Regions from separate parts of the Homo sapiens genome. Here region 1 is linked to region 2. A link means that fine-mapping ties the variant in region 2 to the expression of a gene that starts in the linked region. Tissue or cell type: whole blood. Region 2 holds a variant in brackets; the other region holds the start of a gene. All regions are shown on one strand. Distances are between the middles of the regions.

Evidence for each region. PIP is the estimated chance that this variant, and not a neighbour inherited with it, causes the effect.
Region 1: GPR35 starts here. The variant in region 2 is fine-mapped to the expression of GPR35 in whole blood (TOPMed, PIP 0.95).

The regions. Positions count from the first base shown.
Region 1 is chr2:240,622,178-240,630,198 of GRCh38, reverse strand. It overlaps GPR35 (G protein-coupled receptor 35), which reads right to left and starts at 4,719. Exons shown (of 2, transcript NM_005301.5): 1 at 4,631-4,719; 2 at 1-250. The coding sequence starts at 246. RefSeq lists a silencer at 1-87 and enhancers at 4,259-4,765, 5,373-5,522.
Region 2 is chr2:240,596,979-240,605,314 of GRCh38, reverse strand. It overlaps CAPN10 (calpain 10), which reads right to left. Exons shown (of 12, transcript NM_023083.4): 10 at 7,228-7,427; 11 at 6,918-6,963; 12 at 6,211-6,664. The coding sequence ends at 6,635. Among named protein-coding and RNA genes, the nearest start is that of CAPN10, 14 kb to the right of the region's middle. The variant C/G (reference allele first, on the strand shown) is at 4,869.

The DNA.
Region 1 (8,021 bases), 25 kb before region 2:
GTCTCGCAGGGAGTGCAGCACGAAGGGCAAGGTGCACAGCAGGCAGAGGTCGGCCACCGCCAGGTTGGTCATGTAGATGCGGGTCTCCGTCCACTGCTGCATGCGGCAGCAGAACACCCAGAGCGCCAGGCTGTTGAGCAGCAGGCCTAGCACCAGCAGGACGCCCAAGTAGGCGTAGAAGCCCAGCTTGATCGCTGGGGGCCAGGTGAGGTCGCTGGAGCCACAGGTGTTGTAGGTGCCATTCATGGTCCTGGGGCAGCACAGGGAGCCGGAGGTCAGCAGAGAGTGAGCAGGGGGAGCAAGGCACTGCCCCCACTCTGCCCACCTCTGGGCAGGGATGTGGGAGGAGGTGAGCCCCGACCCCACACCCACAAACACAAAACTCCTCAAAGAAAGCATGGGTGCCGTAAAGAACTCCAAGTCACCCTTGAGGTCTAACCCCTGGACAGATCCTCTTCCCATCTCCTGAGCTCTTCTCTCCTGGGATCTGCCTGCTGTCATGGGGCAGGAAAGGAGGCAGAAGGAGCTCCACGTTCCCCTCCAGTCCCCAGCCCAGCAAGCCCTACCCTCCAGAGCGCAAATCCTGGACAGGGAGCCCAAAGGGCCACCAGCCTTACCCAGCACACAGCTCTTAGCAGGGAGGGCTCAGAGGCAGCAGCACCTGTCAGCCCAAGGACGGGAAGACCAGGCTCCCGGACAAAGCCCAGGGTGGCCCCTCCACCCCTCCTGGCACCCGGCTGCAGGAGGCACCCACATTTGACTCCACACCTGCATCAGCCCTTCCCCACAGCAGAGTCCAGGACAGCTGGGACTCTGGCCTGCCCCTACCTCCCTGTGAGCCCACCCACCCAGTCCTGAGCTCTGGAGGTCCTGCCTGCATCAGCCTGAGGCCCCATCCCAGTCCCACACCTGGGATCAGGGATTCACCCCTTGAGCTCCCAGGGGCCAGAGCCTGTGACGGCAGCCCTGCCCCTTCAGGCCCAGTCGTGCTGCTCAGGGGCCGCCCAGGGGTGGAGCTGAGTATCCTCCTCTCCGTCACTATCAGGACCACCCACAAAGTCACCCCTCCACTGTCCACGCCAGCCTCTCGCTGTCCCCAACACCCTCCGCGACATAGCCCAGGAAGGCTGAGACCAGCCCCGGCTGGACCTGGGCAGGGTCTGGTGTCCAGGACACGGGCTAGAGTCATCCTGACTCGGCCACCCCTGCAGCTGGGCAAACTTGTTTCCTCATCATAAGGGGTGCTGGTGTCACACGCAGGCAGGTGTGAGACGGAGCTGCTGGTGAGCGCCCAGAGTCCAGGACTCACAGCCACACGTCCCACCACCTGGGTTACTCAGTGGGTCCAGGAAGAACCCGGAGGGGTGAGGGCGGGAGAAGCCTCTCCCCCAACCATCAGGCTGTCCTCTGGGGCATCCTGCAGTGGCTTCCTGCTGGGCTGGTATGGAAGGTGGGAAGGACTCAGCCCACAGCGAAGGGCCTTCCTCCTCCCTCTGCCTCCTCCCTCTGCCCAGAGGAGCACAAAAGGTCCCCCAAATCAGGAGGGGAGAGCGCCCAAACCCCGTGACTGCAGCTGCTGGGGACCATTAGTGCTGGGACGCATTTCCCCACGGTGGTCCCCGGGAACTCCAGGTCCCCAGTCCATGAGGGATGGAGGGCACAGGTTTCAGACAGAAACGAAACATTCTGCCCCCTGGCTTCATTCTGTCTCCTTAGATCCCACCTCTGGTGAAGTACAGCAGATATTTGCTGACTTCCAAGTTTCAGGAGCCCTTCCCCCGAGTGCAAAGTGCTGCACGCCCAGTGGTCTCTCTCCTCCCTTCTTGAGGGTCCTGCTTGCTTTCTCTCTGATTCATGAGCAACACTTCACCCTCGTTCCAGGGACTTTTGGAGGGACCCTGAGCCAGGCCAGGCTCCGAGGACATCCCCAGAACCCACTGGAACCAATCGCTGGGATCTTCCCTTCCTGTTGGGCCTATACTCCTGTGGCAGCCCCCGCTGGGGGCCAGGAGATCCCAGAACCTGCTCAGAATCTACACCTCAGAGGCACCTGAGCTGGGCAGGCACTGTGCGTTGGGGAGGGCTCCGTGCGACTGGCCTCCTACTCTCCCCACCTGAGTACTTGAATCCACCAGAAGTCCAGGGCCAGCCTTGGGCGGTGTGCAGACCTGGAGGGGGAGGGGGTCTGCACAGCTAGAGGGCGATTCTTTTGCTGCCCCACCTTGAGTAGAGGCAGCCTGGGACCCTGCCTCGTGGGAGGTGAGGACCCGAGGGCTCGTGTGCCTAGACCCCTTCCCATTGCCCCAGCTTCCCCCATCGCTCCCCATGGCTGCCAAGGGGCTCTCAGGTCACACATACCCAGGGCTGCAACTTTCATACTAGCCTCGGTGTGGCCCAGTATTTTGTGGGGGAATGTTTAACTGCAGGCAGGCACGGTGGCTCATGCCTGTAATCCCAACACTTTGGGAGGCTGAGACAGGAGGATGACTTGAGGCCAGAAGTTTAAGAACAACCTGGGCATCACAGGGAGACCCCGTCTCTACAAAAAAAAAAAAAAAAAAAAAAAAAAAGACAGAAAATTAGCTGGGCTGGTGATGCGTGCTACTCGGGAGGCTGAGGCAGGAAGACGGCTTGAGCCCAGGAGGTTGAGGCTGAAGTGAGCTATGATCCCACCACTGCACTCCAGCCTTAGGAGACAGAGTGAAACCCCATCTCTAAGAAGAAGAAAAAAACTCTAACTACAACATTTAAATTTTCCTGTTTATAATAAAACAAACACTGAACTATTAGGGAGAAAAATGCAAATGTTGCAAGAGTTTCGAGGTGCACGTAGGCTTCGAAGAAGTGCCCTGTTCATGGGTCCTTGTCTCGCCCGTGGAGTGCCTCCCAGAAAAGTTCAGGAAATCAAGGCCCAGGCTTTAGCCCAGATGGCATGGGGCCCCTGGGAGCTAACATGGCCAGCACAGATGCCCACCTACTGCCCCAGTCCCGCACAGGAATCTGTGTCCAGGCCGTGGACCGTAGCTGGCCTCCCGCCTCAGCTCCTCAGGCCTGTCTTCCTCGACAGACACCAGCACCATCAGCCTCAGGGAGCTCCCGCTGCCGGGGACCGTGGGGATGGGGCCCTTCCACTTCCTGCCCAGGAGGCTTTGGGGATTGGAGCCAGCAGCACGCCTCTGAGGCCCCGCTTCCCCTTCTGATGACAAGGTCACCCTCGGCTTCTGCACACAAAAGCAGAAAAGTGCCCTTTGATTCTGCACTGAGTGATCCAGGAGAGAAACCTGGCCATAGACGGGCGATCCAGCCACACCAGAGCCCCTCCCCAGCCCTTCCCCCTGTCTGGACCCGGGACCCGCCCAGACCCCAGAGTGCCTGGCTGGCCTGGGATTGAGACCACAGGCCCCAACCACTGCTGAAGACGTGGGGGCACGCAGTGAGGTGCAGATCCCTGTGGCCCAGGCACCAGAGTCCCCCGTACCTGTGACCCCACTGGGCCTGGGCCCCACACAGCACACCACACCCCAGGACCCAGGATGGGGCTGTGAGTGACACGAGTTCACCAAAGTAGCTGCTCACCTCGGGGCCACAGCACGGGGTATTCTTCATTCTTGTTTTTAAATGTCACATCCCACACTCCAACAAGCTGCTACCCAGACACAGGCTCCAAGTCTTCATCAGCCTCAGCCACCCCTGAGACCCCAACAGCCTCAGCCCACCTGAGACCCCAACACAGCCTCACCTCACTGAGACTCCCCATCACAGCCTCACCCCACTCTGAGACCCCATCACAGCCTCACCCCACTCTGAGACCCCATCAGAGCCTCACCCCACTCTGAGACCCCGTCACAGCCTCACCCCACTCTGAGACCCCGTCACAGCCTCACCCCGCTCTGAGACCCCATCACAGCCTCACCCCGCTCTGAGACCCCCATCACAGCCTCACCCCACTCTGAGACCCCCATCACAGCCTCACCCCACTCTGAGACCCCGTCACAGCCTCACCCCGCTCTGAGACCCCATCACAGCCTCACCCCGCTCTGAGACCCCCATCACAGCCTCACCCCGCTCTGAGACCCCCATCACAGCCTCACCCCGCTCTGAGACCCCGTCACAGCCTCACCCCACTCTGAGACCCCCATCACAGCCTCACCCCACTCTGAGACCCCATCACAGCCTCACCCCACTCTGAGACCCCATCACAGCCTCACCCTGCTCTGAGAACCCATCACAGCCTCACCCTGCTCTGAGAACCCATCACAGCCTCACCCCACTCTGAGACCCCATCAGAGCCTCACCCCACTCTGAGACCCCCATCACAGCCTCACCCCACTCTGAGACACCCATCACAGCCTCACCCCACTCTGAGACACCCATCACAGCCTCACCCCACTCTGAGACCCCATCACAGCCTCACCCTGCTCTGAGACCCCCATCACAGCCTCACCCCGCTCTGAGACCCTGTCACAGCCTCACCTCGCTCTGAGAACCCCCGTCACAGCCTCACCCCACTCTGAGACCCCATCATAGCCTCACCCTGCTCTGAGACCCCATCACAGCCTCACCCCACTCTGAGACCCCCACCATGCCCCTGCCCCGCTGGGAGGCCCCTAGGGCAGTGGGCGGCACTGACCTGCAGGCAGCTTTGGCCTCCCGGGTGGAGTGTGTGACCCCCGCTGCCAAAGCCTGCACAGTGGCTGTCTGAGAAGGGCTGGGGGAAGTGAAGCTGGGGTGAGCCACCCCTCAGGGCTGGTCCCTGACTCTGCCCCTCCTTAAGGTGGGGGGGCGGGCGGCTGACTGACGGCAGCAGGTCAGGGGTAACAGGAGTTCCCCACTGCTCCTGCACCAGCCCCAGCTAGAGGGCGTGGGGGATTTCTGGGAGGGAAGTGGGGTGCCGGCTGCCTGTGCTGACACCTCTGAAGAGCCAGCATCCTTGCTGAGGGCACACATTTGTTCTGGAAACAGCGTGAGAGACAGACAGCAAAACCAGAGACGCTCCAGCCCCGCCCACGGAGCCTTCCTCCTCCCCAGCCCACTTCTGCCCTGTCATCTCGGAAACCTTCCCAGGGCCCAGCCCTCCCAGGGTCTGCGGTCAGCTCGCCCTCCCCAGCGCCTCATGCCCAGCCCCAAGACAGGGTGCAGCACGCACACTCATCCTGGTTCATGCAGACACGCTCCGTGGGCGCCTTCCAATACACACACACACGCTGGCACACATGCACACACACATGCACACGCCAATGCACACAGGTGAGAGGCACACGCAGGCAGGCTGGCTCCTCCCCTGCTTCCCCCCGACTTGGCCACCGGCCCCTCCTCCAAGCCCACCCCCTCAGAAGCCTACCCAGACCACCCCTATCTGGTCTAGAATATTCTCCCTGGCCCCCAACTCCTCAGCGGACATCTTCCTTCTGAGCTCATGGTGGGGGAGCCCGTAGGCCCAGGCTGCGCCCCCATGGTGCAGAGCACCCCCTTCCTGGGCCCTGTCCACCCTGAGGGCAGGAGCCTCGTCTCCTCAACGTGGGCCCCACAGCCCCTGACCACAGCCTCTCCCTCCTCAACGGCTGGGATAGGCTGGGGAGAGCTTCAGTTTCACCCCTCCCCACTTTACAGCGGTGGAAACGGACGCCCAGGGAAGGGAAGCGCTTGGCCCAGCGTCACACAGGTGGTGGCAGGTCTGAGACCAGTGCCTGGGCCTCCTGAGCCAGACCAGGGCTCTCTACCCAGAGGCACGTGAGGAAGCCCTGGCTGGGCATTGGTCCTTCTCTGCTGTCATCCCGGGCCTGGTTCCTGTCCCTTTCTTCCTGCTTCCTCCTGCTGTCCTTCCTGCCCTTCCTCCTGCTTCCCCGGCTGTCCCTCCAGGCCCAGTCCCCAGTGTGCGCCCTTGGGTTCCCTGCCCAGTCTCCATGGGCCATGATGTTCATTGGAGAGGGGCCTCATCCTCGGGCAGGAGGCTCAGATTTGGGATTTCATCCATCCCTCACTCTGGCCACAGGGTCTGGCCTCTGGGGTCAGCAGAAGGCACGGCACCTGATCAGTCCAAGCCCGGCCGCCGTCAAGCAGGGACTGGAGGTGCAGGGCACGGCATCTCCCAGGAGTGCTCCTTCCACCTCTGGCAGATCAGATGGTGCCCCAAGCAGGCCTACCCAGCCCACCAGAGCCAGGGCCCTGCAGAGCTCCCCCACCCCCCCCACCACCAGGCCAGCCATGAACTCCACCGTGCCCCCTCTGCTGGGCATCACTCCTCCCCAGCAGTGGCCTGGGGCACCCCGTCCCCACCAGGCCTGGCCTCCCTGACGTGGCCTGGCACCTGTGCTCCTCACACACTGGAAGGGAAGCCCCACTGGGCAGGGCCACATGGTCCCAGCGGATTCTTCTGGGCTGTGTGGACTTGGGGAAGAAACTGGACATTTAGAGACTCTGACTGTCTCTGGGAAGGGCCCCTTGCCACCAGGTTCCACCTGTGTACAGGAAACGCTGTCCCCAGCCCACCCCCTACCTCTCTCCATCTGCCCCTTGGCTGTCTCCGCAGGCACTTCAGGGCAGTCCCACCCAGCCTGGAGCCTGGGCCCTCGTGCTCTGCCCCCTCCCACTCAGGCAGGCCTTGCCCGGGCCCCTCCAGAGCGCTGTTTCTCTCCTAGCTCCCCGCTCACCCCCAGGGCCCCTCTCTCCCCAAAGCTGCACCCTCACGACCTGTTTGCACCCTCACGACCTGTTTGCGCCCTCACGACCTGTTTGCACCCTCACGACCTGTTTGCGCCCTCACGACCTGTTTGCGCCCTCACGATCTGTTTGCGCCCTCACGACCTGTTTGCGCCCTCACGACCTGTTTGCGCCCTCACGACCTGTTTGCGCCCTCACGACCTGTTTGCGCCCTCACGACCTGTTTGCGCCCTCATGACCTGTTTCCAGCCCTTCACCCTGTTTGATTTTATCACAGAACTTATTTTTTAAGTAACCCTTTCTGCGCACTGGGCTTGTGCTTGTGGGACTCTATCTGCTTCCTGCCCTGTCGGGGCCCTGGCACAGAGCCCGGCCTCTGTGAAGCTCGACGACCGCTCACCCACAGCGACTCCGGCCGCGGGGCTGCGAGTGCCGGGGACATATCAGGTGCTCAGTCGTCGTCGGCGCCCGGCTCAGGCACGGTCGCCTGGGGTCCTCTGCTGCTGCTCAGGCCCTTCTTCGAGGACACCCGGAGTCCCCAGGTTCGAGAGGCCAGATGGCAGGTTTCCAGTCCAGGCCAGGCCTGTTCTCTCCCTGCTGGGCAGCTTCAGACCACCTGGCCCTCTGCGGAGAACTGGCAGCCAGGGTCCTGCTGTGGGCACGGGGGCACTGCCCGGGGCCCTCCGCCCCCAGCCTCTGCTCCTGGGCAGCTTCCTCTCCGAGGCTGCCCCCTCACCCCCAAGGTTAGCCCCCTGCAGCAGCGCCAGCCCCTCCCACTTCACCCCGCTGGGCTGTATGTGTGACGCGAGGAGCTCCGAACAGGATTCCTTCCTGCCCCTCCTCCTGCTTCTCCAGCTAGAGCTGCCGGACGCCACCCCTGCAGCCCTATCTAGGGGAGCCTCTGCAGCAAGCTTGTCCAACACTCGGGCTGCGGGCTTTGAATGTGGCCCAACACAAATTTGTAAACTTTCTTAAAACATTATGAGATTTACGCAGAGACCTTTTTTTGCTCATCAGCTATCGTGAGTGTTAGTGTATTTCATGTTTGGCCCAAGGCAATTCTTCTTATTCCAATGCGGCCCGGGGAAGCCAAAAGATTGGACAGCCCTGCTTTGAAGGGAAGTCTGTGAGGCGATGTCAGGGAAGCAGGAGCCTGGGAGAGCCAGAGAAAAGCCGTTTACGTTCAGCTCCACCTTGAGACCAATGAGGCACATACCTGCCAGCCACAGCCCATGGTCATACGATGTTTACAGCTAAAGCAGCAGCCAGTGACGCCTGCGTGGACACACTTCTATGACAGCAAAGTGTCCAAGTGCCCTGGTATCCAGAACAATATATGCTTTCCAGACAACTACCCTTGG
Region 2 (8,336 bases):
CCTTCCCACCATGGTGGGGAGACGGTCTTCAGCCCACATGCCCCACTCTGCAGGCCCACAGTACCGCCAGGGACCCCACAGCCCTGGACCCCATGGAAAGGCCAGGCCCTGCCTTCAAGCATTCCGGAGAGTTCTGGGTGCCTTGCCAGGGCTGGCGTTGGGGAGACAGGATTTTATTTTTCAGGGTGGCTCTCATTTGCTAGGACACAGGCCACTGGGGACCCAGCATTTGTGTAAGAGATGGGCCCTTCTATAGATGACACATTTATGTCCCCGAAATTCACATACTGAAGTCCTCATCCCCAAGGTGAGGAATGAAAAGGTGGGGACCTCTGGTAGGTGATGAGGTCATGAAGGCAGAGGCGTCACGAATGGGATGAGTGCCCACATAAAACGGGCCCCAGGGAGTTCCTTTGCCCTTCCACCACATCAGGACACAGAGAGAAGGTGCTGTCTCTGGACCAGGAAGCAGGTCCTCACCAGGCACCAGGTCTTCCAGTGCCTCAATCTTGGACTTGCAGCCTCCAGAACAAAGAGCAACGCATTTCCACTGTTTACGAGCTGCCCAGGCTATGGTGCTTTGTTACAGCAGCCCAAAGGAACTCAAAGAGGGGCCCCACCAAGGAACTCAGGCAGGTGCAATGCCAGAAGAGCCAGTAAATCTTACAGGGGTGAGGAAACTCTTTGGCTTTCTCTATTTTCACGTAAACCAGCAGCCTTGCGGCAAAACGAGTGGTCAATAGGAGACTGAGTGACTGCTTGGCAGACAGCCAAGAGAGGCCGGAGAGGGCAGGAAGTGCTGGACAGTGGCTCCCAGCTCCAGAGCACCCCTAGAGGCCCCTGGGTGACACAGGCAGGGGAGCCTCACGGAGATCCAGGAGCAGGCATGCTGGAGGTGGTGCTGATTACAAGCTTGCTGATGGTCAGGCAGCGCTATCAGCTCTGAGGCTGAGAGGGGACTGAGGGTTTCTAGATGGCCTTCACCCTCAAGCAGAGCTGTGCGAGGAGCCGATCCAGGCTGGCTGCAGCCGCTGCAGAGTCCACCCCAGCAGACGCTGAGAGAGAAATGTCACTGGGTGGCCTGTGGCCACTGGCCCAGAAAGCAGGAAAAGTCCCACAGTGCCTCACCCCTGCTTGCCTTCCTTCCCTCCTGACACCCCAGGTGTCTCCCCCAAGCCGCCAGGCCAAGGGCGCTTCTCCCCGCAGGTGTTCCCAGGGTTATGGTCTACACAGCCACTGCTGAGAGGGTGCAGCCAGCAAGGAGTAAATACGCTGGCCAGCAGGTGTGAGCCGGGGCGGTAGCCCCAAGGGAAGGCCCATGGCTGGGCTGTGGGCAGCGTTCTTGGGGGCAGCCTTGTCCAGGGATGCCATGGGGTAGTCTGCCTGGGGAGGCTGAGCCAGGCAGGGCACAAAGACCAGGCGTTTCAGCCAGGTGGGGGCACCCCGGCCACCGACACTCCAGGCTTCTCCCTCACCAACCCCACCTCTTCCACCTTCCCTCCGAAATACCTTGCACCCAAATTCTATGTCTGCCTCTGCTTCTGGAGAATCCAACCCCCATTGGAGAAGAGAGTCACTAATTTGGGATTTGGAACTGGGTCACTCACGGCCCACGGGCAATGAGGACCCATCACTGGTCAGGGGAGATAGCTGGCGCCTGGCACAAGGTGGTCGTCCTGTCCAGTCCAGTTGTGAAACTGGTTCCAGTGTCCAGTGGGAAAGTTGGGGAAGGGGGTCTGCTGGGGGCCCCAGCTGCTGTTTGATGAATGAACAGACACGAGGGCCTCCAAGGAGGAAGCAAATAAGGCGCAGGTGGCTGAGGCCTCACTGAGGTGCCCTGGCTGGAGTTTGGAGAAGTTGGGCGGGGCGCAGCACTCCCAGCTCCTGATCAACACCTAGCCAAGGCCAAGGCCCCATCTGGAGAAACCAGGACCGTGGGCAGGGAGGAGGCAGTGCGTGGTGCCTGAAGGTTCCACTCTCCAGCCTCTTAGGAAGCTTCTGAGCCTGCACAGACGCGGCCCACCCCTCGCTCCACCCCCGTCAGGCCCTGGCCCCCCTTGGGTGCTAGGGCTCTGACCGAGTGAAGTGTCAGCAACATCCAGTGACCAGGGAGTGGGCTGCGGGCCCGGCCAGCTCGGGGCACAGGAGGGGGCTGCAGGCCCAGCCAGCTGGGGACGGGAGGCGGGAGCACTGGTAGGACTGGGTGCTGAGGCGCCTGATAGGGAAGCTGGAGACCTAACAGCAGTGTCCCGAGACACAGGTTTGACACCCTGGCAAGGCCCCTGGAGGTGGAGCAAACCTGGAGGTTCCTAGCGGCACAGGCAACACTTCCACTTTTGCTGGGCAGGGTAGAGATGCCACAACTGCTGTGGCTGGTGGAGGGTAGGCGTAGGCGTGTGTGGTGTGAGCTGCCAAGCACTGGTTCCCTGGGAAGACCAAGGTCACACCGCTCACCTGTGCCATGCTGGTTAATAGGGAGTGGCAGCTGTGCCGCAGGAGGCTGGCAGGAGTGGCGGCGGTGCCCCAGGAGCCTGGCGGGAGTGGCGGCGGTGCCCCAGGAGCCTGGAGGGAGTGGGCGGCGGTGCCCCAGGAGCCTGGCGGGAGTGGCCGGCGGTGCCCCAGGAGCCTGGCGGGAGTGGTGGCGGTGCCCCAGGAGCCTGGCGGGAGTGGCAGCGGTGCCACAGGAAGCTGGTGGCAGGAACCACCATCACTGGGTTTGGCTCGCCGGGGGCGGAGGGCATTAGACCTCTAAACAGCAGAGGCCAGGAGACAATCATGAACACGGCTGAAGGGCGCCAAGGGGCCTGCCTGCAGGGCTTACGGAATGGCAGCAGAGCAAGGCAGGGCTGCCAGCGAGGGCAGCGCTCAGGTGGAGCCGGCAGAGGGGTCCAGGAGGGCTGAGGGTGGTCACTCCGATAGAGCCCCAGTTGGGCCCACACTGCCCGAGTCGGTTTTCAGCCCAGGTATCTGCTGACTGAAGAGGTGGCCAGGCCTGCAAGATGAAGGACACTCCCCACATCAGCAAGTGTGCATGACAAGGACCTCCCCGGGGACTATGTGCACCAGGAAGAGAATATCCAGGCATCTGGGAGCCACTGAGCACACAGGCCCCAAGCTGATGCTGGTCCCCAAGAGTCACCAGGGCTCCATGACAGTGGGACACATCACAGGCAGTTAATAATGGAGTCCTGCCCAGGACCAGCTCACATGAGCCCACAGGGCCTACAGACCCACCCGGGGCCATGTCCCGGTCTCTGAGCCTGTGACTGGGATTGACACCTGGGGAGCGACCGATATCTCTGCTGCATCCTTGGGGTAGAGATGGCCGTGGGAAGGCCAAGAGGGACACTGGAAGGCCAAGACTGTCCCCTCCTGCCCGGGTCCCAGAGCAGCCGTGGCATGCGGAGAGAGGGTGGTGGCCCTGCTCTCTCCATTTGGTTCAGTGTGGCCCCGTGGGATGGGATTCCTGGAGGGCCACGTGGCGAGTGCACACACAGCCGAGGGGCAGCCCAGTGCAGCAGGTCCTGGAGGTCCAGGTACCCAGGGTTGGCCATCAACTGGACGAATACGCCACGGAAGATCAGAAGCTGCTCACATTTATATGAAATTTGTATGGAATGGACAAAGGCATTTGCTGTTTCTCCTGGGGCCTCTGCCGGAATACAGGACAGAGACCCCAGCTGGCCGGACACCCTGAAGAGCACCGCACTGATCCATGACCTTGGCAACAGGATGCTGATGGTGTCAGAGCAGGAGGCAGCCAGGGACAAACAACACCAGGCCGGGGCCTTCTGCACCAGAAATGTTTAGGTTGGCTGGGGGTTAGAGCCCTGCCAGACATCCCCTCCAACTGCATCTGGAACCTCCCATCAGAAGGAAGCACAAGGCCTCAGGGCTCTCCGCAGGCTTCGGAGGGAGCGTTTTCCACACCCAGGAACATGGTTCCAGCTGGTAGACCAAATGGCCAAAGCAGCCAGGTCGAGTGGAGCCAATCTACACTGGGGCGATGATGGGTGCCAACCATGGCCTCTAAAGTCACGGAACCCTGCGCTTTCGAGGCCTCCTCTCAGGCAGTAGCCTGGGACGCGGGAAGCAGGTCCTGGCTGTGGCCTTTGGGCAGAGCTGCCCAGCAGGAGGGTGTGGCCGCCACCTTCAGGGCCTGCCTCGGGGACAGTGGCTCCTGAGGGCCTGGGGGAAGGGATGCTCAACATAAGGGCCTGGCCAGCCCAGGTGGGGCCCTGCAGGCAGGGTTTGCTCCAGAACTCTTCACGGGGTCCCCACCAGTCTATCCTGACATGGACACAGTCCCTGCAACTGTCTTCCCTTCATAGGCACTGTGCCTGAGAAATACCTTGACCCCAACTGTCCCACCTCAACCTGCACCATCAGGCGCCCTGCACAGGACCTGTCCGCCCACAAACCCAGGGATCTAGGGCAGCTCCGACCCAGCTCAAGCCTCTGGCTTGGGCACTGCCCTGCGGGGTATTTCTTTGGTGAGCCGCCCCTCACTGTTCGCCCTGAGTTGCTGTACCCCAATAGGCGGCACCACTGGCTTCATCCGAAGTCAGCACAGAAGCCAGTGGATGAGGGAGATCTGTGGCAGGCTCTGCACGCAGGGAGATGGAGCCCCATCCTGCTGCTCAAGAATCCGTGTCTGAAGATGCCGAGAACCCAGCTGCCACAGCCACTGCTGCTGGAGGGCCATTGAACCAGCAAGCAGAGGGGCTCACGGGGCAGGCTCCAGGGCCAGGGCAGCTTCCTGTGGGTGAGTCAGGAGGGTGGCTTGGCGTGGCCAGGGCGTGGAGAGGGGGACAGCGGCACAGGTCCCAGTGGGAACAGACACCAGGACTCCAGAGATGGTCGTGATC[C/G]GGCAGCAAGGCCCAAATCAGGCTCACTGGGTGCTATGGTTTGAATTTGTGTTCCTGCCCAAATCTCATGTCGAATTATAATCCCCAGTGTTGGAGGAGCCTGGTGGGAGATGATTGGATCATGGGAGCGGATATCCCCCTTGCTGTTTTGGTGATAGTGAGTTCTCCTAAGATCTGGTCATTTAAAAGTGCACAGCACCTCCCCTTCGCTCTCTTCCTCCTTCTCCAGACACCTGCAGACTGCCTGCTTTCCCTCCGCCATGATTCTAAGTTTCCTGAGGCCTCCCCAGCCATGCTTCCTGTACAGTCTTCGGAACTGAGGCAATCAAACCTCTTTTCTTTATAAATTACCAGTCTCAGAGTTGTTTACAGCAATGTGAAAAAGGACCAATACACGGGGTCTCCCCAGGCACAAAGGGACTCAGGAAGCGAATGGAATTTAAAAGGGATTAGAGCTGGGGTTGGCGGTCATGCCTGCAATCTTAGTGCTTTGGGAGACCAAGGCAGGAGGATCACTGAGGCCAGCCTAGGCAACCACATACTAAGACCCCTAAGCATTCAAAACTTGAAAAAACTAACCAGGCATGGAGTGTGCGCCTGTTTTCCTACCCACCTGGGAGGCTGAAGAGGGAGGATCACCTGAGCCCAGAAGGTCGAGGCTGCAGTGAGCTATGATCATGCCACTGCACTCCAGCCTGAGCAACAGAGCAAGACCCTGTCTCTAAAACAAAAGGGCTTAGTGACAGCCCTCCCCACCCATGTCTGGAACTGTCTTCTGCACCGTTCAGTGACACTACAGCTCTCATCACAGCATTTGGTGTGAGGGACGAGGGAGAGAGGCCTGGGGAAATAAACAATCCTAGGACACTGCGCAGGTGAACCCTGGCTGGAGGCAGAGGAGCCGTCCAGATCCAAGGCTCCCAGTCCATGTGAACCTGGGGTTCCTCCCTCTGCGCAACTCCGGTTCTAACACCCGTTTCCGAGATGTCCTTCTTCGCCACAGCCTTGGCAGTGCCTTCGCTGGCTCTCCCCACCCCTCACTCCCCAGTCTATCAGTCTGTGTCCCCCAAGACCAGGGCTTGACCTGCCCCGGCCAGCCTCAACCTCAGCCCCCTGGCCTGGGGCATGCCCTGGGCCCGCCCCTCCAAACTTCTCCCCTCCTCCCCACTCACCATCTCCCCCTGAAACCTGCCCTGCCTGGGTTGGCTCTGCCCACCTCCCAGGCCCCCAGCCCCTCCAGAGGCCATCCTCATCCTCACCATCTCGGCAGGCACCCAGCCCTCCCCACAGCCTGCTTGGCAAGAGCAGGCACAGCCTGGAACTACCTGGAGCAAGACTGATCTGCAAATCATCAGCGCTCATGTTTATTTATAAAGTTACATCCTAAAAGTGATTCGAACAATAAATAGTTATAAAGAAGATCTGCTGCCCTACCCTCTGGGTGTGAGGCCTCCATATGGAGTCAGCAGAGGATCTGGGAGGGATCCTGGGAAGCTCTGGGATCCTGGGGTCTCTGCCGTCTCAGTGGCGCAACAGAAGCCAGCAAGCTTCCCACCCTTCCTTGCAGCACCAGCTGGCCCCCAGGGCTGCGTCTCTCCTGACGGAGGCTTCCCGTGGACCCCTAGGCCGCAGCCTCCTGGCAGGGCTGGGAGGCAGGCCAAGACTCAGGACCAGCCCCCACAGTGCAAGGCTGGCCGGCCCAGCTGCTGGGAACCTGTCAGGCCCTCGGGCTCCAGTCACCTGAGCTGGCACAGGGGGCCACCCTGTTAGGTTTTCATCACTGCCATGATGGAGACCTGCAAAGACAGATGGGGGGCCCGGGCAGCGGTGGCACTCGCCCCTTCTCACACCCCACCCCGAGTGCAGCCAGGGAATGGGACGCAGCCTCAGCTCCCCCTGCCCTTCAAGGCACCGCCCGGGGCTCTCACAGGAAGAGTCAAGGGCACCTCACGTCCCAGGCAGAAACCACCTGCCTGAGGTTGCAGGTAGACCCTAGGCCACCAGGCAGCCCCAGGCAGGTGAGCCGGGCTGGCGGGGCTGCATACACACCTCTTGGAGGAACTGGCCCAGCATCTCCTGGCTGTGAATGGATGGCCTGTGGAGAGACACCAGATCAGCGCTCCCAGACTGCACTTGTCACACAAGTGGCTGTGTGCTCCTGGCCCACCTCCCACTAGACTCTCCTTCCAGGCTCAGACCAGCAAGGAAGGGTCCCCAGGTAGGCAGGACAGCCCTGGTCTGCCAGGACAGATAGGGGCTTGAGGGTGAGGGGCAGGCAGGAGACGTGGGGGGACAGGCGAGCACTAAGACTCCAGCACCCCAGCCTCCAGCTGGCCGCCCCCAAGTCCCAGAGCCCCACCTGTCAATCCTGGTTGCGATGGTCACTGTGAAGGCCCCCTCTGTGTCCGGCAGGTAGGTGGAGGGCACAACCTTGTAGGTGCCCGCAGGCAGGAGGCAGAGCCGGCTCACCTCCTGGGCGTAGCGATGTGGCACGCAGCTCAGCAGCGGCTCCTGCAGCAGCAGTGGGGGTGCGTCCTGGCTCCTTCCACCCTCTGGGACCTGAGGAAAGCGCAGGCTCAGACTGAGGGGGCCAGCCTTGGGGTAGGGAGCCCAGCCCAGGGCCATCTGCTCGGATGCCCTTGGCCCTCTTGAGTCACATACAGCCCCTTCTCTGAGGAGGGGCTGCCAGGCCTGGACACTGGACTCGCCTCCTCACCAAGGCCTGGCCACCCTTGCCAGAAGGTGCCGGCAGTGGGGCCCCCGCCTGGAGGCCTGTCACATCATCAGGGGCTTTAACACCTGTGACTGCCCAGCCCGCCCCAAGGGCTCCCACTGGCCCTGGCATGTGTTTTCCTCAGAGCTCTAGGGGACCTGAGCCGGTGGCCCAGGGCAAACAGCGAGGGTCCAAGGGTCCCCAGGCAGCCCACTGTGAACCGAGGGTTGCAGTGCCTTCCTCGTCAGGGCCCCTGCATTCCAGGGGACACATGTCTGCAGAGAATGAACCTTGGGACACAGTCATTCTGAGTCAGGGTAAGTGGACAAGGGGCTGCTGGCTGAGCTCAGTGACTGTGGACTTCCTCACACCCGAGGGGCTGCTGTGGCCAGCCAGCCTGGGCCTCCCCTCCTCTCACTCCTGAGTCCATCAGCCCCCTGCGTTCCCAAGCCAGGGCTCGACCCACCCCCGCTGGTCTCAACCTCGGCCTCCTGTCCTCTCCAAACTTCTCCCTTCCTCCCCACTCACCACCTCCTCTGGAAACCTGCCCTGCCTGGATCAGCCCTGCCCACCTCCCAGGCCCCCGGCCCTTCCAGAGGCCATCTTCGGCCTTGCCTCTGAGAGGTTGGAGATGGGAGAGGGCCCTGTGCGGGTTCTAGGCAGCGCCTCGAAGGGCAGGGGGAGCCCAAGTGACTGAGCCCAGAGCCCTCTGTTGGGACAATGGAGGCCAAGATGCAAATTCTCTGAGGGCCCCT